4 separate regions of the Homo sapiens genome follow, and regions 1, 3 and 4 are each linked to region 2. Evidence: fine-mapped expression QTL. A gene starts in region 2. Each other region holds a variant in brackets. All regions are shown on one strand. Distances are between the middles of the regions.

The links.
Region 1: its variant is fine-mapped to the expression of DNM1 in whole blood (TOPMed, PIP above 0.99). The same link has a PIP of 0.9 or more in cerebellum.
Region 3: its variant is fine-mapped to the expression of DNM1 in unexposed skin (GTEx, PIP above 0.99). The same link has a PIP of 0.9 or more in sun-exposed skin.
Region 4: its variant is fine-mapped to the expression of DNM1 in whole blood (TOPMed, PIP above 0.99).

The regions. Positions count from the first base shown.
Region 1 is chr9:128,220,814-128,225,813 of GRCh38, reverse strand. DNM1 (dynamin 1) reads right to left here. Exons shown (of 22, transcript NM_004408.4): 7 at 3,475-3,617; 8 at 3,218-3,353; 9 at 2,954-3,021; 10 at 1,425-1,563. Among named protein-coding and RNA genes, the nearest start is that of DNM1, 20 kb to the right of the region's middle. The variant C/T (reference allele first, on the strand shown) is at 2,027.
Region 2 is chr9:128,200,105-128,207,466 of GRCh38, reverse strand. It overlaps DNM1 (dynamin 1), which reads right to left and starts at 4,088. Exons shown (of 22, transcript NM_004408.4): 1 at 3,836-4,088. The coding sequence starts at 3,996. It also overlaps a transcript of CIZ1 not described here. RefSeq lists enhancers at 2,302-2,874, 4,306-4,405 and silencers at 3,163-3,457, 4,026-4,245.
Region 3 is chr9:128,250,679-128,255,678 of GRCh38, reverse strand. DNM1 (dynamin 1) reads right to left here. Exons shown (of 22, transcript NM_004408.4): 21 at 4,739-4,954; 22 at 435-1,025. The coding sequence ends at 965. Among named protein-coding and RNA genes, the nearest start is that of MIR3154, 8.1 kb to the right of the region's middle. RefSeq lists enhancers at 1-123, 124-628 and silencers at 4,783-4,872, 4,883-5,000. The variant C/T (reference allele first, on the strand shown) is at 2,679.
Region 4 is chr9:128,175,924-128,180,923 of GRCh38, reverse strand. It overlaps CIZ1 (CDKN1A interacting zinc finger protein 1), which reads left to right. Exons shown (of 17, transcript NM_001131016.2): 6 at 110-203; 7 at 401-509; 8 at 1,509-2,215; 9 at 2,434-2,555; 10 at 3,161-3,358; 11 at 4,449-4,573. Among named protein-coding and RNA genes, the nearest start is that of CIZ1, 13 kb to the left of the region's middle. RefSeq lists an enhancer at 1,999-2,690. The variant C/T (reference allele first, on the strand shown) is at 3,082.

The sequences.
Region 1 (5,000 bases), 20 kb before region 2:
GGTGCTGCCAAGCATCCCCTGGGCTCCATAGGTATGGCCAGAGGTACGAGGGACCAAGCCCCTGCTCCGTACAAGACCCCTATTGAGTTCAGATCCTCTTCCCAGGGATGCTCCCCTGCTCCTCGGCCTCACTGAGGCTGCCTGCTCTCTCCCAGTGCCGTCTTTGTCCACAGCCTTGGGTTCTCCTAAGGAGCTGACCCAGGCCAGGACAAGGCCAGGACCTCATCCACCCATCCTGTTCAATTCTACGTTTCCCAGTGTCCCAGAATTTGCTTCATCCTGACTCCAAACCTCAGTACCATTCCCTATCTCTAGGGTTGCCGCATCCAGCTGCCCAGGCCATGCACTGCACAACTCCAGGGGGGTCCATTCCCGTAAACCGTGGCGCAGAGGCTGCCTCCTAGGGTTGCAGTATAGCAGCCTGACCTCCCTCTCCAGCTCCCTGCTCTAGTCCCGCCCCTCCCTTTCTCTTCAAGGGGCATTCCTGGCCTCTCCTCCACAGGGGTTTGGTGGAACCAAAAGACAGAAAGAGAAGAGGAAAGACAGAAAGAGTAGAGGTAGTGATAGAGAGGGGCCGGGACAGCAGTGGGGAGAGGAAAGGAAGGGAGGCTGGAGGGTGGAATCGAGGAGCACTGGACTTGGAGTCCAGAGCCGTGGCTTCAAGTAACAGCTCTGCCACCTCCTGACTACTGTGACTTGGGCAAGCCACTTGATCTCCTGGAGCTTCAGTGTTCGTGCTGTGAAATGGGCACCGTCCTCCCTGTCCTGCCTCCCTGCGTGCTTCTGTGAGGCTTGGATGGTGGGGCAGATGGGAGAAGGGCTCTATCCCTGGAAAGCCAGATGTGGATGGAAGGGAGGGAGAGGCCCTGAGTGAGGGTCTTACGTGAGCATCCTGTGTGAGGGTCCTGAGTGAGGGTGAGATGAGTATGGGGAGGATGAAGGACAGCGGGGAGCCAGGGCACCTGCTAGTCCTGGGTCCTCTGCACCCCCTCTGGCCACCCAGGCCCACCGAGCAGTGCCCGAGAAGGCCCTGCATTTCACCTGTCTCCAAGGCTAAGGTTTCCCCAGACCCCTCCCTGGAGCTCCCAAAGATGACACCTCCGAGGACAGGGAGGGGGCTCAGGGTCCCCTCAAGCCCTATTCTCTGAGCTGGGGGAGCTCTTGGTGGGCTCTTGGGGTAAACAGCCAGCCATCATCCCCGTCTCACCCATGTCCAATCCCTGGGTCCCCAGACCTGGGGGCCAGGGGTGGGTGAGGCCCTCTCAGAGGCACATTGTCTCCTATTCAGTGGTGGCCTGCCTCCCCACCCCGCTGAGGTCTGTACATGCTACCGAGGAGGCAGGGGGGGACATGGGGAAGGAGCGCCTGGCAGCAGTGCAGGGCGGGGCAGAGGCGGTGGGGGCTGGCCCGGGCCTCCGGGTTACCTTCTTGGTGCACTGTCTAACGGTGCTGATTAGCTCCGAGATAACCATGTCCACACACTTGAGACACGGTTCTCGGATCTTCTTCACCTGCTTTTTCACAATGGTCTCAAAGGCCATGTCTGGGGTAAACAGCCCCGTTCTGAACGCCCGGAGCGGGAGAAGGGCAGAGTGTCACAGGCCAGTGCCGGCCAGGAGGGCCAGGCCGAGGCTCCTCCCCAAGCCCACGAACTCTGCCTGAGGGGCCCTTCCACTACCCCTCTCTGGGCCTCAGTGTCCCCAGTTGTAAAATGGGAGGGAGGGGTTCTAATGAAGGGTTTTTTGTTGTTGTTGTTATTTTTTTTGAGACGGAGTCTTGCTCTGTCGCCCAGGCTGGAGTGCAGTGGCGCAATCTTGGCTCACTGCAACCTCCGCCTCCCGGGTTCACGCCATTCTCCTGCCTCAGCCTCCCAAGTAGCTGGGACTACAGGCGCCTGCCACCACGCCCGGCTAATTTTTTCGTATTTTTAGTAGAGACAGGGTTTCACCGTGTTAGCCAGGATGGTCTCGATCTCCTGACCTCATGATCCGCCTGCCTCGGCCTTCCAAAGTGCTGGGATTACAGG[C/T]GTGAGCCACCGCGCCCGGCCCTAATGAGGCTCTTTGGGGCAAGACAAGGTGGTTGAGTATCTGATATGTAAGTCCTGCTTCCTCGTAAGGGTCTGTGCATATAGGAAGTTCTATGGCCAGAAATGGCTTGAAAATTGCCAAACGTGGTTCTCCATAAGAGCCTTTCCAGGAATAGAGTGTTTTGTTTTAAGACTAGGAAAGAGATCTTTTTTCTGTGAATTGGCCAGTGCAGTTATCAGGAAGTAAATTCCATGCCAAATCTTGGAAATGAACCTGCATGAGAGCAAGGGGACACTGGGTCTTGTTCACTGCTTGGCATAGGGTAGGTGCTTTAAATTTTCCGGCCCAGTGGATTTGTTGGATGAACACAGCATAGATCTGGGTCCCTGAAGGGGATCTAAGCTTTTAAGGAACAGATTCCACCTCCCAATCCTGTTTCCTACTCCACGGGTTGCCTAGAAGGAGGGCGGTGGGGTGGAATGGGACTGACTCTGGGCTACTGTGAATACAGGAGGGTGTGGAGGATTGCAAAGTCCCCGGCCGTCATAAAAGGACACAGCCTCATACTTAGATGCTCCACCCCAGGCCCTCGTAGTGGTTTGGACATCTTTGTCCGGTTACCTGGGTGGCACTGGGGGAGCTATCTCACCCTGGGGATGGGCCCAGCCCCAGAGGGTGTTTCCCCGGCCACCTGCGCCCTGGGCTGTGCCCAGTTGGCCCAGCAAGTTGCAGTAGGCGGGGTGGCCCGGGTCCACCTCCCCAAGCTGGAGCCTGTCATGCAGGGAGCCAGAAAGTTGGGGTCGAGAGGACTGGGGAACAGAGCTTTCAGTCCTTCCTGAGGGAGGCCCACTTCATCACTCCCTGTGCCTCTGTCCCAGACCCCCTACTTCTGGGGTTCAGCCACCCTCCCAGGCCCCAATACGTGCCTAATGCCATGGATATTCTTGATAGCATAGCTGATCTCCCTTCGGAGTTCCTTCTCATCAAACTCCATCTGTGTAGAAAAGCAGAGAAAAGCCTGGTCAGGGCCTGTCCTACTACCTGGGAGGTCAAGACAGGGCCCACCCCACACCTAGGGCTGGGCATCAGGGCCTGTGGGGTGGGGGCCAGCAAAAACACACGCAGAGAGAGTCCTGAGTGAGGGTGGGGGGAGTCCTGAGCCATCCTGTCCCCAGGGCTGCCTGACCTACCTTGACCAGCTCGAAAGGGAAGCGCTCGTGGAAGATTCGGTTAATGCGGGCTCCCCCTGACAGTTCGTAGGTGTCGATCTGATCTCCTGAGCCCTCAATGCGCTTCTCAAAGTCTACGGCGAACTGCTGGACCATCCTGGTGGGAGAGTGGTGTGGCCTGAGGGGGCAGGAGCAGCCCAGCAAAGGGAACCCTGGGAGAGCCCCACGCTGAGAGGCTGGGGGCGGGGATTCAGTGATAGGAGCTGGGGGAGCCTCACTGCAGCAGGGCCTTGGTCTTGCGAGCTGGGTCATCAGGGCGGAAGTTCTTGTATTCCTCCACCTCCTTCTCAATGGACAGTAGCTGGCTCTGCAGCTTGTTCCGCAGCCCCGGCAGTGTGTCCCGGATGTGGTTCGTCAGTTGCTGGGGGTAAGGGTGAGGAAAGGGTTGAGGACAGATGGTCACAGGGCCAGGAAGGGACTTGGATGCCAGGGGACTGTGTGAACGTGGTGAGGTGGAGAGCTATGGAGGGCAGCCCTGCCACTGCTGCCCGGGCCACTAGCAAGAAAACTGGTTCATAGAAGGAGCTTGCAGAGATGTATTAGTTGAATTAATGAGTGCATAATTTTCAATAAAGCCAGAAATCTGGATTTGTATTTGGAATTTCCTGATTTTTGGCCAATTTAATCTTTTTATTTTTATTTATTATTATTATTTTTTTGAGACGGAGTTTCACTCGTCACCCAGGCTGGAGTGCAATGGCGTGATCTCAGCTCACTGCAACCTGCGATCTCTGCCTCCCAGTTTCAAGCAATTCTCCTGCCTCAGCCTCCCAAGTAACTGGGACTACAGGCGTGCACCACCATGCCCAGCTAATTTTTTGTATTTTTAGTACAGGTTTTCGCCTTGTTGGCCAGGCTGGTGTCGAACTTTTGGCCTCAAGTGATCCACCCGCCTCAGCCTCCCAAAGTGGTGGGATTACAGGCATGAACCACCATACCATCCCAATTTAATATTTTTAGACGTGCGTCTGAGGCAGGGGTGGCCAGAGGGCTGCCCCTTGGACCCTCTGGGTTTAAAGCCTCCTTTAAGGTCATTCTCAAGTTCTAGCACTCATGCTCACTAGGTGCCCCCACACAGTATCTCCCTGAACCTTTACAACAATCCTATGAAACAGGTCTGATCACCATTGTCTCCATTTTACAGATGCAGAAATAGAGGCTCAGAGGCCAGGCACGATTATGGCTCATGCCTGTTATCCCAGCACTTTGGGAGGCCAAGGCGGGCAGATCACCTGATGTCAGGAGTACGAGACCAGCCTGGCTAACATGGTGAAACCCCGTCTCTACTAAAAATACAAAAATTAGCCAGGCGTGGTGGTGTGTGCCTGTAATCCCAGCTACCTGGGAGGCTGAGGTAGGAGAATCCCTTGAATCCAGGAGGCAGAGGTTGCAGTGAGCTGAGATCGCACCATTGCACTCCAGCCTGGGTGACAAGAGCAAAACTCCATCTAAGAGAGAAAGAAAGAAAGAGAGAAAGAGAGAAAGAGAGAAAGAAAGAGAGAAAGAGAGAAAGAAAGAGAGAAAGAAAGAAAGAGAAAGAAAGGAAGGAAGGAAGGAAGGAAGGGAAAGAAAGAAAGAAAGAGAAAGAAAGAAAGAAGAAAGGAAAGAAAGAAAGAAAAGAAAAGAAAGAAAGAAAGAAAGAAAGAAAGAAAGAAAGAAAGAAAGAAAGAAAACAAATAAAGAAAAAAGAAATAGAGGCTCAGAGAGCCAGAGAGAGTGTCTCAGAGGGGGAGTGACAAAACTG
Region 2 (7,362 bases):
TGGAGGGACAGCGAGGAGGCCCCTTTGGCCTAGGGCACCAGGCATCTGTTCATGAAAGGCTGGTGTGTGCTGGGTCCACAAACACTCCCCCATCTACACTTACCCCCAGGATGAGCTCATCTACTCTCGGGTTTAAATCCCATCTCTACACCAACGACTTCCAAATTTTTACTTCCAGCCCGTCTTCCCCCTGAGCTCTCAACTTGCATCACCAAACTGCCAGCTGACATCTTCCACTTAGAAGTCTAACAGGCATCTCAGGCTCAATATGTTCAGAACCAAACCCTGGTCTTCCCCCATCCCCCCAGTCTGCTCCTCCTTACTCTTCCCGACTCTGTTAATGGCACCAACACCCACCCAGGAGCTCAGGTCAAAGTCCCAGAAGTCATCATTGATTCCTCTTTCCTCACCCTCCACATTCATCCTCCAGCAGGACTTCCTCTAAAATATATCCTGAAACCCACCCACCATTCTCCTTCTGGTTGCAGCTGAAGCCCTTGTCCAGGCCCCCCACTACCCCCTGCCCACTGCAGCAGCCTCCCCACCAGTCTCCTGCCTTTTCCCTCACCCGCTCCCCAAGTCACACCCTTGCTAGAATTAGCTCATCACTCCACTACTAAAAAGCTTCCCACAAGAGAGAAAATAAACCCAAACTCCTCACTCCTCATGGCCTAAGGGCTTTGTAGATCTAGCCCCTGCCTATCTCTCAGGTCCTGTCTCCCCCTTGCTAGCTGAATACCAGCTACAGGGTCTCCTTTCTGTTCTTCAAAGGCACCAAATTCTTTGCTACCCCGGGGCCTTTGCACCTTTCCCTTGGCCTGGAACTCTCCCGCCCCTGGCAAGTTACACAGCTTCTCATCCCTTGGTTCTCATCTCAGATGCCACCTCCTCCTGGAGACCTCTGACCTCCCTGGGGAGAGCAGCCCCACTCCCCTCCCTGACGTTCACCACATTTTCCAGTTGTCTTCTGAGTTTCTCCCTCTGCAGTGCAGAGTCTTGGTCTTTTCCACCATAGAATCCCCAGTGCTGAGACATCGTGCACCCTCCACAAATGTTTGCTAAATGACTGAATGAATTGGCCTCAGTTTTCCCTTCTGTAAAAGGGAAGGGGGTGAAGAAATAGTATAGACCCAGACAAGTTCTAGCAGCATCCCAGGCAGCTGCAAGGCTACCTCCATTGCAGAGTTGACAGCAGGATCCTCCTGAGCACCCAGAAGCCCGGGTGGGCCTGGGGCAGCCCTGATGCATTTTCCTGTGAAGCATTTTCTGTTGGGGATTGGCTCCTGGGAAGCCCCAGGAGACAGAATGGCTGTTACTATGCTCACCAGTCTGGGGACTGAGCCCTGTTGGAGAGGTCAGGAGCCCTTGAGGGAGCTGGCAGGCTGAGACAGTGGAACCCACTGAGCCTCAGTTTCCCTGGCCTTCTCACTAGCTTTCAGAGGATCATGAATGCTTTTCTGCCTACTCCTTCACATCAACCTAAGCCCCCTCCCCTGCCCTGGGCCTGCATCTGGACACCCTGCACATCCTCCTGTGGGGACAACGGCCAAGGGCATTGGGGTGGAGAGGGCAGCCAGAGGGCCCAGGCCTCCTGGGGCACGGTCCAAACCTTGCTCCACCACTCAACAAGCAAGTACTCGATGAAATCTGCTGTGGTCAGGGATGGCCCCTGCGTCATGGGCTCCAGGAAGGCAGGGGCTGGGCATGCAGGTCCCCAAGCCTAATTGGCTATCAGCGCCCCCTCCCGCATGTTTACAAAAGCACCTTTCCACCCATGAACTCGGTGGAGCCCACAGTCACCTTCTCAGGAAGGCAGGGCAGCGGCTGTCAGCGTTTCCATTCCGCAGATGGGGAAATGGAGGCCCACCCACCCACACGTCCCTGTGCCTGGTGCAGGACCCGGCTGTCAGAGGATGTGCAGCGTCGAGATTAGGAATTGGGCTTTGGAGTCTAACAGCTGCTGCCCTTTCTGAATGTGTGACCTTGGGCAAGGCATCTAACCTCCAGGGTCTCAGTTTCCTCATCTGTAGGATGGGCATCATGGTACCTGCCTCTTGGGAGCTCCTGTGAGCCTATGAAGGACTCAGCATAGGGGGATGCATGGGATGGGCTCAGTAGATGCGGGCTGAAATCACCAGTTGGTCCCCTCCCTACCCCAAGCCTGAAGCACGCAGCCTGGCATGGGGCAGGAGTTCAGCCAACATTCAAAGGACGAGAGGTAGGAATATGGTTTCTCCATTCTAAACTGCTGGATATCCCTGACTGCTGGCCCTTGGGGAAGGGGCCCGTGGTGTGTCTCTTGCCTGTGTCTCTGCAGCTCCGGGGGTCATGTGATCAGAAGGGGGGCTCTGCAGGAGCCATTGGAGAGACAGATGCCTTCCCCTCTGCTGACCAGATGGGCACGGCCGCCCCCACGGTGGCCTTCCAACGTCCCACACACACATGGCTCCAGTCAGGCCCTCTCCCTCTCACCTCTAGGGCTGGCATGGGTTTCCCAGGACATTTGAGGGGCAGGAACAACCACCCAGTCCCACTGTCCATGTTAGAGATGGGGACACTGAGGCTCAGAGAGGGCAAGTGACTTGCCTGAGGTTTTGCAGCAGAACCTGGCTTGGACAGAACTGCTGTACCTCTGCGGACAAGGGCCCCTGCCTCCCTCTCCCATGTGCCAGTCACTTTTTTGGCCCTGAAGGTCATTGGAAGAAAGCAAGAGTTTCTGAAGAAGATGGGGGGGAGATGAAAGACGGGGTCAGTGTAAACTCTCTCACTTCATCCCCCAGTCTGCCCAGCCCCCCAACCCACCTCCAGTACCTGGAGAGCTCCTATCTTTCTTCTCTCTCCTCAGCACCAGAAAAACTATTTCTGCCTCCCTTTGGGGGTTTGTGGGGAGCCTGCGGGTCACGACCCTGCCTGCCCCGCTAAACCCACGACCCTTTGTCTTTGCGGTTGTTCCTCTCTCCGCCACCTAGGCCTCTCAGCGCCTTGTGGGATCAGAGGCGGGAGGGGGATTAGGTTCTGCAAATGGCTCCCCCCTCCCGCCATCCCTGTCTTAGTCATCTCTGCCCTCTGCCGCCTCTCCCTCCAACACGATTCCTCTGGCCAGGCCAAGGGGAGGGCGACACTGACAGGCGCCCCCCACCCAGGGGCCGTGGCGAAGCAAGGGGCCGGCTGCTCAGAAAAGGATAAGAAGTGGTTTCTCCTCCCCTCTTCCCTTCCTCATCCTGCAGCCCGCGCCTCCCCCCTCGCCGCGCTGCGCACGGATGGCGGCGGGAGCCGCAGAGGTGTGTGTGTGCTGGCGGGAGGCCGTGCCCGGTCCTCGATGCCCGCGGGACTACGTCCTCTTCTAGGGACTGGGATGCGGGGGCTGACCTCTGCCACGGCCCAGGAATTCCCATGGGGGTAGGGGGATGTCCCCCATTGAGCCCGGTGTGGGGGACGCTGCCCCCGGGTGCTGCCCGCTCCAAGGGACTCCCGGAGCCCAACGGAGACGCTGAGTAATGCGGGCTCTCTCCATGCCCATGTTGGGGGCGGGGGGCAGCTCTTTGCCCGGGGCTTCTGGCAGAGCGTTGTCTGCCCTAAAGGATGGGACGGAGGAGGGGGCGTGATTCGGTAGCCGGAGGCTTGACGACGTTTGCAGACTAGCGGGGGGCGCTGCTGCCCCGAGGGGCTCTCGTGGTGGGGGGAGGGCCTCCTCGCTCCGGCTGGGGGTGGGGGGCGCGCCGGCCGCGGGTGCAGCGTCGGGGGCTGCGAGGTCGCCGCGCCGTCAGTGCCCCGGGCGGGGACTCCAGGGATCCCGGGGGTCGGGGGTCGGCGCCTGGGGGCGCGCCGCGCCTACCTGCCTACGAAATTCTCGAGCACCGAGCTCTTGCCGGCGCTCTGGCCGCCCACCACAGCGATCTGCGGCAGGTCGAGGTCCGCGTTCTGGCCGATGGCAGAGAAGGCGTCTTGCAGCCGGTTGACCAGCGGGATGAGATCTTCCATGCCGCGGTTGCCCATGGCTGCGGCGGGCCCCGCAGGCTGCGATCCGGCTGCCGCTAGCGCTCCCGGCTCCGACTCCGGCTCCGCCGCTGCAGCCGCGCGCCCAGACTGCCTGCGCCGCGGGGCCCCCGCCCCTCGGGGATCGGAGCGAGCACCGCTCCCGGACGCCGCTAGGGGGAGCCCGCGGCGCTGCGGGCCGGCCGCCGTGCGCAGGCGCCGTCCGGGGCATCATGGGTGTCGTAGTTTTCACCTTCTGCGGCTTTTGGGGTGCTTTAGCAGTGTCTGGGGTGCGCGGATGCTGCGCAGAATATATTTGTCAATGGGTTGGGTCTCACTCCTAGTACCAGGCCTCTTGGAGAGTGGTCTGGATGTTTCACTCCATCTTACCGATGAGGAAACAGGCCTGGAGAGCAGATGGGCTTCCTCTGAGGTCACAGCCTCCTGACCTCAGAGGTCAGAACTCCGAGATGAGTTCCCCTTCATCTCGCTGGCTTCTATCCCTAGATCCTGACTCTGATCTCCAACATGTCCTCTTCTGCCTTTGGTCCTCAGTTTCCTTGTTTCTAGAAGGAGAAAGTTGGAACATGAATTCAACAAATATTTACTAGGTACCTGCTAGAAGCCAGGCCCTGTCCTAGGCACTGAAGATTCAGCAACGAATAAGACAGCCAAGGCCTCTGCCCTCATAGATCTTGCATCAAGCTGGGGAGACAGACAGTAAATAAGTAAGCAGATAAATGAAATAGTAAAAATGAAAATAATTCATAGTAAGAGGGATGGAGGAAATAAACAGGGTGAAAAAAGGTATCTTTGTGGGTGTGGAAAGTTCACATTGGCTTGGCAGGAGTCGGGGGTGTTCTCTGCAGAAGTGACATTTGAGAAGAGACCAAAATGATGAGAAGGAGCCAGCAGCAAGCAGATCAGGGGAAGAGCATGCCAGGCTGAATGACCAGCAAGTGCAGAGGCCCTGACACCTGGAGGGCCCTTCTTGGGAGAGTTGGAAGCTCTTGTCCTAGAGAGTGGAAGTCTTTGCTCCAACCCATCAGGATGGTGGTAAAACAGCGTAAAACAGTGGGATTCAAATCCAGGGCTCCTACAATCCTACCCTGCGTACCCTTTCACACAGACAGACCATGGGGCCCTGAGCCCAGCCGTCCATCTCTGCATTTAAGAAACCTAATTAGTATTCACGGTGGAGGCTAGGAAGGGAAGGCTAGCCTACACTGTGCTCATGGGGAGTCGGTGAGTCATTTCCCTGCGCTGTGAACAGTGTGGGGGCACTGCTGACAAAGTGGTCTGTGAATTGGAGACTGTTCACTTACTCATCCATTTAATGCGTATTTGTTGAGCCAGGTACTATGCTAGACTCCAGAGATAAAGCAGTGAGCAAAACGGACAAAGTCCTTACCCACATGTGGCTGACAATTCAGTGGAAAAAGACAGACAATATGCAAATAGGGCAATAACGATGGCCCTGTTAGATGGCGTGCCCTGCAGAGCAAGAAAGCAGGGGCGGGGTAGGGTGGTGTTGCTATTGTGAAGATGGTGATCAGAGAGTGACCCTTGTGGGGAGGAATCTTCGAGGCAGGCATGGGGAACAAGCAGGCCCTCTCCCTGGTAGCACCAGAGAGTGGATTAGGAGTCTAATCTGGGCCTTAAACAAGCTGCGTGACCCAGGTCCCTCCACGTCTCTGAACCTCAGTTAACTAATCTGGATAATGGGGATAATAATAGATCAAATGCCTGTGTAGGGCACAGCCCAGGCCTAGTGCTCAGGGGGCCCTTATTAAGCTGCAGCTGTGAGGATGCCAATGATAACAGCTCACCAGACAGCTGGAGCATCAGTGCCACACAACTTGCATGGAACCTGGCAGCTGTTCCATGCCAACCTGTTATTATGCTCTGAGGACAAGAGAAGGCAGAGATGGAAGCCTGGATGACTGGCACCAGGAGGGGGTGCAGTTTATAGATGTTTGCCTAGAGGGCATCATGGCTGGGCTTTTAATATTATTTATTTACTTATTTATTTTATTTATTTTTGAGACGGAGTCTCACTCTGTCGCCAGGCTGGAGTGCAGTGGCATGATCTCAGCTCACTGCAACCTCTGCCTCCTGGGTTCAAGCGATTCTCCTGCCTCAGCCTCCCGAGTAGCTGGGACTACAGGCACGTGCCACCACTCCTAGCTAATTTTTGTATTTTTTGTTTGTTTGTTTGTTTTTTGAGACGGAATCTCGCTCTGTTACCCAGGCTAGAGTGCAGTGGTGCGATCTTGGCTCACTGCAACCTCCACCTCCTGGGTTCAAGCAATTCTCCTGCCTCAGCCTCCCAAGTAGCTGGGACTACAGGCTCGTGCCACCACGCCCGGCTAATGTTTTGTATTTTTAGTAGAGATAGGGTTTCACCGTGTTAGCCAGGATGGTTTCCATCTCCTGACCTTGTGATCTGCCTGCCTCTGCCTCCCAAAGTGCTGGGATTACAGGTGTGAACCACTGCGCCCGGCCAATTTTTGTATTTTTAGTAGAGATAGGGTTTCACCATGTCGGCCGGGATGGTCTCGATCTCTTGACCTTGTGATCCTCCTGCCTCAGCCTCCCAAAGTGTTGGGATTACGGGAATGAGCCACTGTGCCCAGCCTATTTATTTATTTATTTGAGACGTAGTCTCGCTCTGTCTCCCAGGCTGGAGTGCAGTGTCGTGATCTCAGCTCACTGCAACCTCCGCCTCCCAAGTTCAGGTGATTCTCCTGCCTCAGCCTCCAAAGTAGCTGGGACTACAGGCATGCACCACCACGCCCAGCTAATTTTTTGTATTTCTTTCTTTTTTTTTTTTTGAGACAGAGTCTTGCTCTGTCGCTCAGGTTAGAGTGCAGTGGTGTGATCTCAGCTCACTGCAACCTCTCCCTCCCTGGTTCAAGGAATTCTCCTGCCTCAGCCTCCTGAGTAGCTGGGATTACAGGTGCTCGCCACTGTGCCCAGCTAATTTTTGTATTTTTAGTAGAGACGGGGTTTCATCATCTTGGCCAGGCTGGTCTCAAACTCCTGACCTCATGATCTGTCCGCCTCAGCCTCCCAAAATGCTGGGATTATAGCTGTGAGCCACCATGCCCAGCCAGCTTTTATTATTTTTACTTTTTCCCCCCTAATTACAATATTGAAACTTATTGTAAAACCAGACTTTACACAAGTATTTGAAAACCTCTGGTCATCCTCCCACCTAGAGATAACCACTATAGCTTAGGGATCGTTCTCTGGCTTTGTTTTTCATATATGCACATATTCATTTTGTTCCATTTTGTTTTTACAGAAATGGGATTATACTAAGTATCCTATACTGCTGTATCACTGATGCCAGGCCAGCAGCCTGGCATCACATGGAGTTGGTTG
Region 3 (5,000 bases), 49 kb before region 2:
ATTACACGGGGACTACCATGGTACCTATGGGGACAGTTTGGCCCCGATGGCCAACAGGCTCAGAAGCCTGATCTAGCGGTGGCCAGGAAGACAGGATGCCAGCACCCAAGGGCACTGACTTCCATCCAGCCCAGGTGTCTTCCATTCTGTCCCCCTGCCTCCCTCGCCTGCCTGAGCCTGGTGGCCTGTTCTGTCTGTCCCTCCAGAATGCCAGCCGCCCTGCCGGCGCCCTCCAGGCTGAGTTAATGGCCCTGCCCCCTAGTGGCCAGAGCCCGCTTCACAGGATGAGAGCCCCCTAAGCTCCAGGGGCTTTCCAGGAAAAATGTCCCTTGGAAAAGATGTGGTCTTTTCACCACCCCCAGCAGCACCCTAGTAATGGCTTAGCCCTTCCCCTCCCCTGAGCTCCAGAGAGAACACAACCAGCAGAGGAGACATTCCCCATCATCCAGAAATGGGTTTTATTCTCAGCCGAGGGACAGCAGGACTGGTAGAAACTGTCAGGCCACACGGCTGCCTGCACAGCACCCCCATGCTTGGTAGGGGGTGGGAGGGATGGCGGGGGCTGGCTGTCCACAGGCCGGGCATGACAAGGAGGCTCACTGGAGGTGGCACACTTTGGAGTGGGATGTCGGGGGACAGCGTTCTCTGGTAGTTGGGCCACAAGACTCCACAAGGATAGCACAGTGACTGATTCCCAGCGCTAGAGGCGAGGCGGTTGGCCATGTGTAGGTGTGTATATATATGAGTATTTATAGATATTTATAGAACAGGGCAAGGGCATACCACAGAAGGGGCACAAGTTTTCACCAACGGTCACACCTGAATGTATCAGCTCACCACTACAACAGATTAAGTCACAGATGAAGGGGGCTGGCTTTGGGGCTGGGGGAGCCACTGTCAAGTCACAGAACAGCCGTCCAGGCAGGCTTGGAAAGGGAGGTCTCCGAGAAGAGGAGGGATCTGTTTAGAGGTCGAAGGGGGGCCTGGGGCTCTCAGGACGGGATGGACTTGCCTGACCCGATCGGCTGGCAGTTGGAGAGAAAGCAGAGAGAAAACGGGAGAGAAAAGCGAGGAGAGAGCTGGTAAGGCAAGCGCAGCACACGGCCGGGGCCGGCCGCGCCGCAGCAGTGGTGGGAGGGCCGGGGAGGGGAGGCTGCAGGTGTGGGTGTGGCAAGGTTCCTGGAAAAGGGGCTGGAAGGGAAAGGGGAGGAAGATGGAGGGAGGAGCCGTAGCTTCACAGATAGCGCCTGGGGGCTGTGGCGGCCCTCCCCACCCCACACACGCTGGCCTCTCACACGGCACCCAGGCAGGGCACCCGCAATTCAGGCTGATGCTCGGCCCCCTCGGGCTTCCCTCTTCTCTGGTCACCCTGTCTTCCAACCCACTGGCCTGGGGCCACCCCTTGCCTTGGGGAGCCCCATGCAACAGCCACCAGGCCTGATAGAGAAAGAACACTGCTTGAACCAGGAGGGTGAAACTAAAAGGGATGGCTGGAGGGAGCGCCGGAGGCCCCTCTGGGTGTTCAGAAAACCCAGGACCCTCTGAAGGGACCCTGGGGGAGGCAGGGAGGGCAGGCAGCCGGATGCCAGTGGCCATAGACTTATAAGTCTAAGAGGGGAGCCTCAGCTGGTCGGGGGGCTGCAGGTCTCGTAGGTGAGGCTGGGCCCTTCCTGCTGGGAAAAGCAGAAGAGCGAGAGTCAGTGGCAGGAGAATGGGGGGTGGGCTCACTGGGCGGAGCTCAGCTGGGCCAGCAGGCACGGTCGTCCCCTTGGCTGAATGGCACAAGTGACCCTAGGAGCAACAGGCCAAGGTGCGTGAGCCCGCTGGCTGGCTACGGTGCTTCAGCTGGGGCCAGGGACACTGCCTTCAGTCACACTAGCAGCTATGACGGTACCTGGGAGGGAGGGAAGGGGGCTGTGTGTCCCTGCCTGGCCTGTGAGGTATGTCGTGGGATGACCGTGTGTATGGGACTCTCAAGCTTTTACCCTAGGTCACCACTGGATTGCCGGCAGATAGAGGAGGTGGGACCCTGACTCTCACCCCTGCTCTACGGTGGATTTGGCTCTCAGCACTCCCAGGCTGGGAGCTGGATGCCCTACCCAGGGAGCATGACTCAGACTGCACACCACGCACGGTGTGCCCAGGATAACGTTCCTAGGCCTCTGGCCGCCTCAGAGTCCAGCCCCACACACGACCCCCTCCAAGCTCCCAGCCTTTACACCATAAACCACGAGCTCTCTGCCCTCTCTGACGGCTCCAGAGAGCACCCATGTCTGCCAGCTTGGGCGCGGAGCCTGTTCCAAGAGCCTCCAGGCTCAGCCATGGAGGCCTTGGGCAGTGGCACTGAGTCCCGAGGCTCGCAGGGAAGGGAGGTGAGAGAGCCAGCGGCACAAGGACAGAAAGAGGAAAGAGCAAGTCTGCAGCTGCAGAAGGGAGGGGCGGGGAGCCTGGCTCTGAGGTCCCAGGTGCGCGCCCCGTGTGGAGCTAGTGCAGCGGGGCAGACACACCGTTCATGCAGCAGGCGGTGAGGCATGTACCTACCATGGCTGACGCTCCTCAGGGGTCACTGATAGTGATTCTGAAAGACAGCACGAAATCAACATGGCAGTTCACACGCACGGGTGGGGCCGGCCTGGGGGTGGGGGACACACACACGCACACGCCCGGGCGTGCACACA[C/T]ATGCTGTGAGGCCCCATGGCCCACATGCACACGCTAACACACATGCCCACAAACAACACGCATACGCCTCCTTCCCCGCCACCTCCCAGTGCCCAGCACCCTCACTGGCCGGCGGCGCGTGCAGCATGGATCTGGGGCATGCAGCCACTCAGCACACTGAAGCACACGTGTGGGCAGAGTCACAACACAGAAGCTCACCCGCACACAGAGGCATTTGCACCAGCTCCCTGCACACTCGTGCCTGGTGTGCTTAGAGGATCACCCGTGCTGCTCATGGAGATAGGGCTTGCTCGCTAAAGTCCAGCTGTCATTTCTCCACCTAAGAGCCTTCTGTGGTTCCCTACTGCCCACAGCATTGAGCCCCAACAAGTCAAACTTTTCAGACTTTGAAGGTTCTCCACCTTGCGCCCCACCCTGCCCACAGAGCTCTTCCTCATTCTGTCTCTGTTCTCTGCTTTGTCCAGTGGCTGTCCTCGTTGCAGCCCACACTACACCTCTGCCCACACTGCAGCTCTTGGCCCAGATACCCTCCTGATTCCTTGCCACGTAAGCCTATCTCAGCCATGCCTCAGACTGCACTGAAGTCAGGTTGCCTTGAAGAAGCTCTCCCAGACTGCTCTTTTCCCCAAGGTAGGGTCATGATTTGCCAAATGTTTCATGTGTGTTAGCAAGACTGGAGTTGGGGCAGGCATCAAACCTTACATCACAGATCTCACACCGCACCATAGACCTGGGTGCCAAATACCCTGAAGAATCTGAACTCACGTTGGCAGTTAGCAAAGTGCTCCTACGGCTGCATCTGCAGTTAACACAGCATCCCTATAGCCACTGTCTCCCTCGATCCCCACAACCGCCCTGGGAAAAAGGCAGAATGTCATCATTTGATAGAAGGGATGCTGAGGCTCTGGGAGGGAAAGAGACGTGTCTAAAGGCCCAGGGTGAAGCAGCATCTCTGGACTCCCAGTCCAGTCCTCTTGCCCAATACCATGCTGCTTGCCTCTACGCATCTGCTTTGGTCATCAGAGCATCATAGGGCAAGCCCCAATCCCTGCCTCATTTTGGTTTATGGGTGCTAGACCGACAGCCCTACCCTCCAGCCATGCAGAAACAAAACAGATGCTATTGTTCTGCTGTGTTCTTCCTTAGAGAATGTGGCCAGTGGAAACAGGGCAGACTGGGAATTGGAGTGAACTTCCTTGAAAGAGAGTCATGGGTCAAGAAGGTCAAGCCAAAGGATGTAGTAGAAAGCTTTTCCCTAGAAATCTTTGGGAATGAAGCAGGCTTCAAGCACTCCCATCCCTGCCCCTGCCGCCACCCCTACCACATTGGTTTAGACTGGGTAGGGCCAGAAGTCGCGGAGGGGGTGGTTGGGGGGAGGAAAAAAGCCATCAGTTTGCCCACGGCCCAGGCTGCTTCCCCAGCTGCTCCTGTCCTAGCCCGGGCCTGGGTGCCATGCTTACACTCTCACACTCGTGTGCACGCCCACACACACATCACACACCTTTCTAGTCACACAGTCACAGCCTGGCCTCTGCTCCTGTGGGCCAGTGGCTGGACACCCCCTGGGATGGCTCAAAGGAGTCAGGGCTGGGAAGTGGGGACATCAGGGTAGCTGAAGGAAATCCACACACTCAGAGCAGATCGGGGTTCAGAGTCAGACCTAAGGTAGGCTCCCCAGGGGCTGGGAGAGGAATTGGACGGAATGGAGGATGGAGGACAGCAAGAAGAAGAAAGGAGGAGGAATGCAACGTGTGGGCGGCCGCCAAGAGTGAAAATAGAGGGAAGCGCCATGCAAGTGCTGGAAAGAAGGGGGCAGGTGGGACGAGCCCCACAGCCCCCTCCCCAGAAACGACCACCTCCGGGACTCAGCGCTCCCTCGGGGGCAGGCTCCGCCAGCCCTCGGCCACACGTGGCGTGGCTCCGGCACCCAGAGTCCGATTGCCTGGGATAGAAACGGCCGGTTCTGGCGGCCAGGTCCGATGCTCTGGAATCCAGCCCCATTTCCCTCCCGGCCACGCCCGTCCGGCAGCCTCTCCAGCCGCATTCAGCCCCTACTCACCTGGGGACCCCGGGCGGGGCGCGGTTGGGGCGCGAGGGCACCTGAGGGGGAGGGCCGAAAGGGTCAGGGGAAGCCCCCGGCCTGGAGGGCACGGGGGGCGCCCCCCCCAGGGCGGACCCAGCAGGCGGAGGCCCAGGAGCAGGGCCCCGCGACCCGGGCCGGGCTGGGGGCACGGCGGGGGCTCGGCGCTGCGGCGTGGGGCTGGACGTGGGCGACCTGAGGGCGACAGGGAGCGAGGAACAAGGAGAGGCGAGATGAGCAG
Region 4 (5,000 bases), 25 kb after region 2:
TCCTCAGGGCCCTGTCATCCCCTGGAGGATGGGGGGCAGCTGCCCTTGGGCAAGGGGGTATTGATAGGGGTGGGTATTGGATGTCAACATAGTTTCTGAAAGGAAGCAGGATTCTTCTTCTCAGACAATGCCTGTGGAAGACAAGTCAGACCCCCCAGAGGGGTCTGAGGAAGCCGCAGAGCCCCGGATGGACACACCAGAAGGTGAGGGAGGGAGGCTGCTGGCCCTTCAGAGGGACATGAATGGGGTGGGGCCAGTGGGCGGGTCAGCAGGTGATAGAGGCAGGTGTGGGAGGCAGGGGTTCTTGGTGGGAAGGCGGGGAGCCCAGGCCCCATCTCTTGGAGGTCAGAGATGCTTGCTCTTCCCAACATGAGTTCCCTCGCTCATGCCTCCATTCCAGACCAAGATTTACCGCCCTGCCCAGAGGACATCGCCAAGGAAAAACGCACTCCAGCACCTGAGCCTGAGCCTTGTGAGGCGTCCGAGCTGCCAGCAAAGAGATTGAGGAGGTAACTGATGCTGAAAACCTGACCTGCGCCCGGGTGCCCTGTGCTCTCATTCCTGCAAAGGCAGGGGTGGCAATGGCAGAGGGGGTGCACCATTCAGTGGAGCTGGAGCAAGGAAAGGGCCTTGGCCTCTGATTTGGAGGAAGGCCTTACTTATTTCCGCACCTGACCTGGGGAAGCTCCCAGCCAGACTCTGGTGTCTTCCTTGAGACTGAGCCACCTGGGGGCCAAGCTGGATGGCTGCGTGGGAGGGGTGAAGACGTTCATCTGGGACCGTAGTGGGCAGGCCATTTACAAAGCCAATTGGATACATGTCAGCAAGTTGTGGGAGGTGAGAACGATCCTCCCCGGTTTATTTAGGTGAATCTGAGGCCTAGACAGCCAAAGGAGTTTGCCCAAATCCCCAGCCTGTAAGTGGTAGAGCCAGCATTAGAAACCAAGTCTTGGGCTGTATGTGGTGGCTCACACCTGTAATCCCAGCACTTTGGGAGGCTGAGGCGGGCGGATCACCTGAGGTTGGGAGTTTGAGACCAACCTGACCAACATGGAGAAACCCCGTCTCTACTAAAAGTACAAAATTAGCTGGGTGTGGTGGCGCATGTCTGTAATCCCAGCTACTCCGGAGGCTGAGGCAGGAGAATCGCTTGGACCTGGGAGACGGAGGTTGTGGTGAGCCGAGATCGCGCCATTGCACTCCAGCCTGGGCAACAAGAGCGAAACTCCATCTCAAAAAAACAAACAAACAACAACAAAAAACCAAAAACAAACAAAAAGAAACAGTCTTGGGCTGGGCGCGGTGGCTCACACCTGTAATCCCAGGTTTCACCATGTTGGTTAGGCTGATCTGGAACTCCTGACCTCAAATGATCCACCTGCCTCAGCCTCCCAAAGTGCTGGGTTTACAGATGCGAGCCACCACGCTCGGCCTAGTTTTGGCCTTACTTGGGAGCCCCTGGGGCCTCTTTGAAGACATGACTGGGATTTTTTTTTGATCCTTCCTAGCTCAGAAGAGCCCACAGAGAAGGAACCTCCAGGGCAGTTACAGGTGAAGGCCCAGCCGCAGGCCCGGATGACAGTACCGAAACAGACACAGACACCAGACCTGCTGCCTGAGGCCCTGGAAGCCCAAGTGCTGCCACGATTCCAGCCACGGGTCCTGCAGGTCCAGGCCCAGGTGCAGTCACAGACTCAGCCGCGGATACCATCCACAGACACCCAGGTGCAGCCAAAGCTGCAGAAGCAGGCGCAAACACAGACCTCTCCAGAGCACTTAGTGCTGCAACAGAAGCAGGTGCAGCCACAGCTGCAGCAGGAGGCAGAGCCACAGAAGCAGGTGCAGCCACAGGTACAGCCACAGGCACATTCACAGGGCCCAAGGCAGGTGCAGCTGCAGCAGGAGGCAGAGCCGCTGAAGCAGGTGCAGCCACAGGTGCAGCCCCAGGCACATTCACAGCCCCCAAGGCAGGTGCAGCTGCAGCTGCAGAAGCAGGTCCAGACACAGACATATCCACAGGTCCACACACAGGCACAGCCAAGCGTCCAGCCACAGGAGCATCCTCCAGCGCAGGTGTCAGTACAGCCACCAGAGCAGACCCATGAGCAGCCTCACACCCAGCCGCAGGTGTCGTTGCTGGCTCCAGAGCAAACACCAGTTGTGGTTCATGTCTGCGGGCTGGAGATGCCACCTGATGCAGTAGAAGCTGGTGGAGGTAAGTGAGCACTGGCTCCCAGCTGGTCTGGTGATGGGACAGCTCTGCCCAGACCCTTCATTCCTCCCCTGACTGGGTGCTGCCTGGGACTGAGGGCTAGGCCTGGAACCCAGGTCCAGGGCCATCCATGCTGGGGGCCTCAAGGTTCTGGCTGCGGACGGAGAAGGCAGCTCTTGGGCCTGGGGACTCTGGGAAATACAGCACATCTGTCATTTCAGGCATGGAAAAGACCTTGCCAGAGCCTGTGGGCACCCAAGTCAGCATGGAAGAGATTCAGAATGAGTCGGCCTGTGGCCTAGATGTGGGAGAATGTGAAAACAGAGCGAGAGAGATGCCAGGGGTGGGTAGAGGCCCTGATGTGGCAGTGTGAGGGCCACAGAGCCCAGCAGGGTGGGATGGCCTCTTTCTGCCCCAGGCCACCTCAGGGCCTCCTTGTGTTTCCCCCACCGTGAAATGGGATGACAGCCCTCTGCCTAGGATGGGTGGCCAGACCAGGCTGGGCTTGATAGTGGTGTGCATGGGACCCTCTTGCTGTTGTGCTGTCTTCACATCCGTCCCTTCCAGCCTGCCCATCCCCAAGCCAGAGCCCCAGTCTCCTCGCATGGGTAATGTTGCTCTCGTGGAGAGAGCACAGAGTGGAAGCCTCTCTGTGGGATTTGGGTCCCAGCTCTGCGTAACTGTGGGCAAACCCTTTCCCTCCTGAGTCTGTTTCCCCATCTGTCATACAAGGGGTGGGATGAGTGGTACTTTAGGCCGACCTGGGTTCGCATCCTGACTGCAGTGCTTTCTAGCTGTGCAAGCTGGGGTAGTCAGCTAACAGCTCAGAGCCTCAGTTTCCCTATCATCAGGAAGATCTGATGAGACAA[C/T]GTTGGCAGATGTTGAATGCTGGGCTGGCCCACTATAAGTACACAGTTGATGGAAGTTCAGTTCCTACTCCCCATGCAGGTATGGGGCGCCGGGGGCTCCCTGAAGGTCACCATTCTGCAGAGCAGTGACAGCCGGGCCTTTAGCACTGTACCCCTGACACCTGTCCCCCGCCCCAGTGACTCCGTCTCCTCCACCCCTGCGGCTACCAGCACTCCCTCTAAGCAGGCCCTCCAGTTCTTCTGCTACATCTGCAAGGCCAGCTGCTCCAGCCAGCAGGTACTGATACAGGAGATAAGGGTGGGGAGGGGTGGGGCCTGCGTGGAATGCCCAGCCTGCCCTCCCAAGAATGCCTCAGGCTGCAATGGGCCCTGCCCCAAGCAGCCATGCATTTGCTTGGGAAACATTTCCTGACCTGCCAAGAAGGCAGGTTTTGGTGGTTTTGTTTTTTGTTTTGAGACAGGGTCTTACTCTGCCTCCCAGGTTGGAGTGCAGTGGCATGATCTCAGCTCACTGCAGCCTCTACCTCTTGGGCTCAAGCAGGTTTTTAGAGTCAGTCAGACCTGGTTCATATCGGCTCTGAGTAGCTGGGAGACCTTGGAAAGCGAATTCCACCCTGTGCCTGTTTCCTCTTGCATCAGACAAAGGAAAGTTTAGGGTCGGGCACAGTGGCTCACGCCTGTAATCCCAGCACTTTGGGAGGCTGAGGTGGGTGGATCACAAGGTCAGGAGTTTGAGACCAGCCTGAACAACATGGTGAAACCCCGTCTCTACTAAAAATATGTGTTGGCATGCTTCTGTAATCCCAGCTACTCAGGAGGCTGAGGCAGAAGAATTGCTTGAACCCAGGAGGCAGAGGTTGCAGTGAGCCAAGATCATGCCACTGTGCTCCAGCCTGGGTAACAGAGCGAGACTCTCAAAACGAAACAAAAAAAAGAAACGTTTAGAATCCACCTCACTGGGTGGTTCTGGGGATTCAGCAATGTGACATTGGAGTCCTGAGCGCAGGCCTGGCCCAAAGTGAGTGTAGCAGTAATCATGATCGCATTGTACTTGTATTACTACTCTTGTGCTGTGAGCTGTGTTACTCTGTGCCTCACCTGGCACAGCCTTGGAGACCTGGATGCTAATCAGGCCGCTCCTTGTCTTTGAGGCACTCACACATTCTCTGGGAGGGGCAGAAGCTCGGGCTGGCATGTACCCTGTGTCTTAGTTTATCATGCCTGCTCTAGCCTACACAAGAGAGAAATGTGTGGTGAGAGAAATGGGCGCACAGTGATGAGGCTGGGGTCTGCCTCCCCAGGCCCCAGCCTTGCCCACTGTTCTGGGCTCACGCCCCAGGCCCATCCCTCTTTCCCTCCTGCTGCAGGAGTTCCAGGACCACATGTCGGAGCCTCAGCACCAGCAGCGGCTAGGGGAGATCCAGCACATGAGCCAAGCCTGCCTCCTGTCCCTGCTGCCCGTGCCCCGGGACGTCCTGGAGACAGAGGATGAGTGAGTGGGGGATCGTGGAAGCTCTGTGTTGGGGGGTAGGCAGTCTCATCGGCCAGGGCCTGAATCTACCATCTGCAGGGTTTACCTTTGGGTTAAGCACTGCACCCCCAGCCAGGCCTCCTCACACTGTTAACTGTGTGACCTTGAACCTCAGTTTTCCCTGCCTGTAACATGGCTTGGTGACGGATATAGTACAGGAATTCATGACATTCTCTTAAGGTTCCCTCTAGGCAGGAACAGTATGACCATCCCTGTGGGAGAGGACAGGTTGTGGCACAGACTCTTGCCCCCTGTGGCATGTGTGCTAACCCCGCTGTGGGGTGACAAGGCTGAGGATCAGGTTCTTTTGTGGTTGGAGGTTAGGGTTTCCCTGTGTCTCCCCCTTTCATTGTCATGGGAGCCTGTTTAATCAGAAACTTCAGCCCTC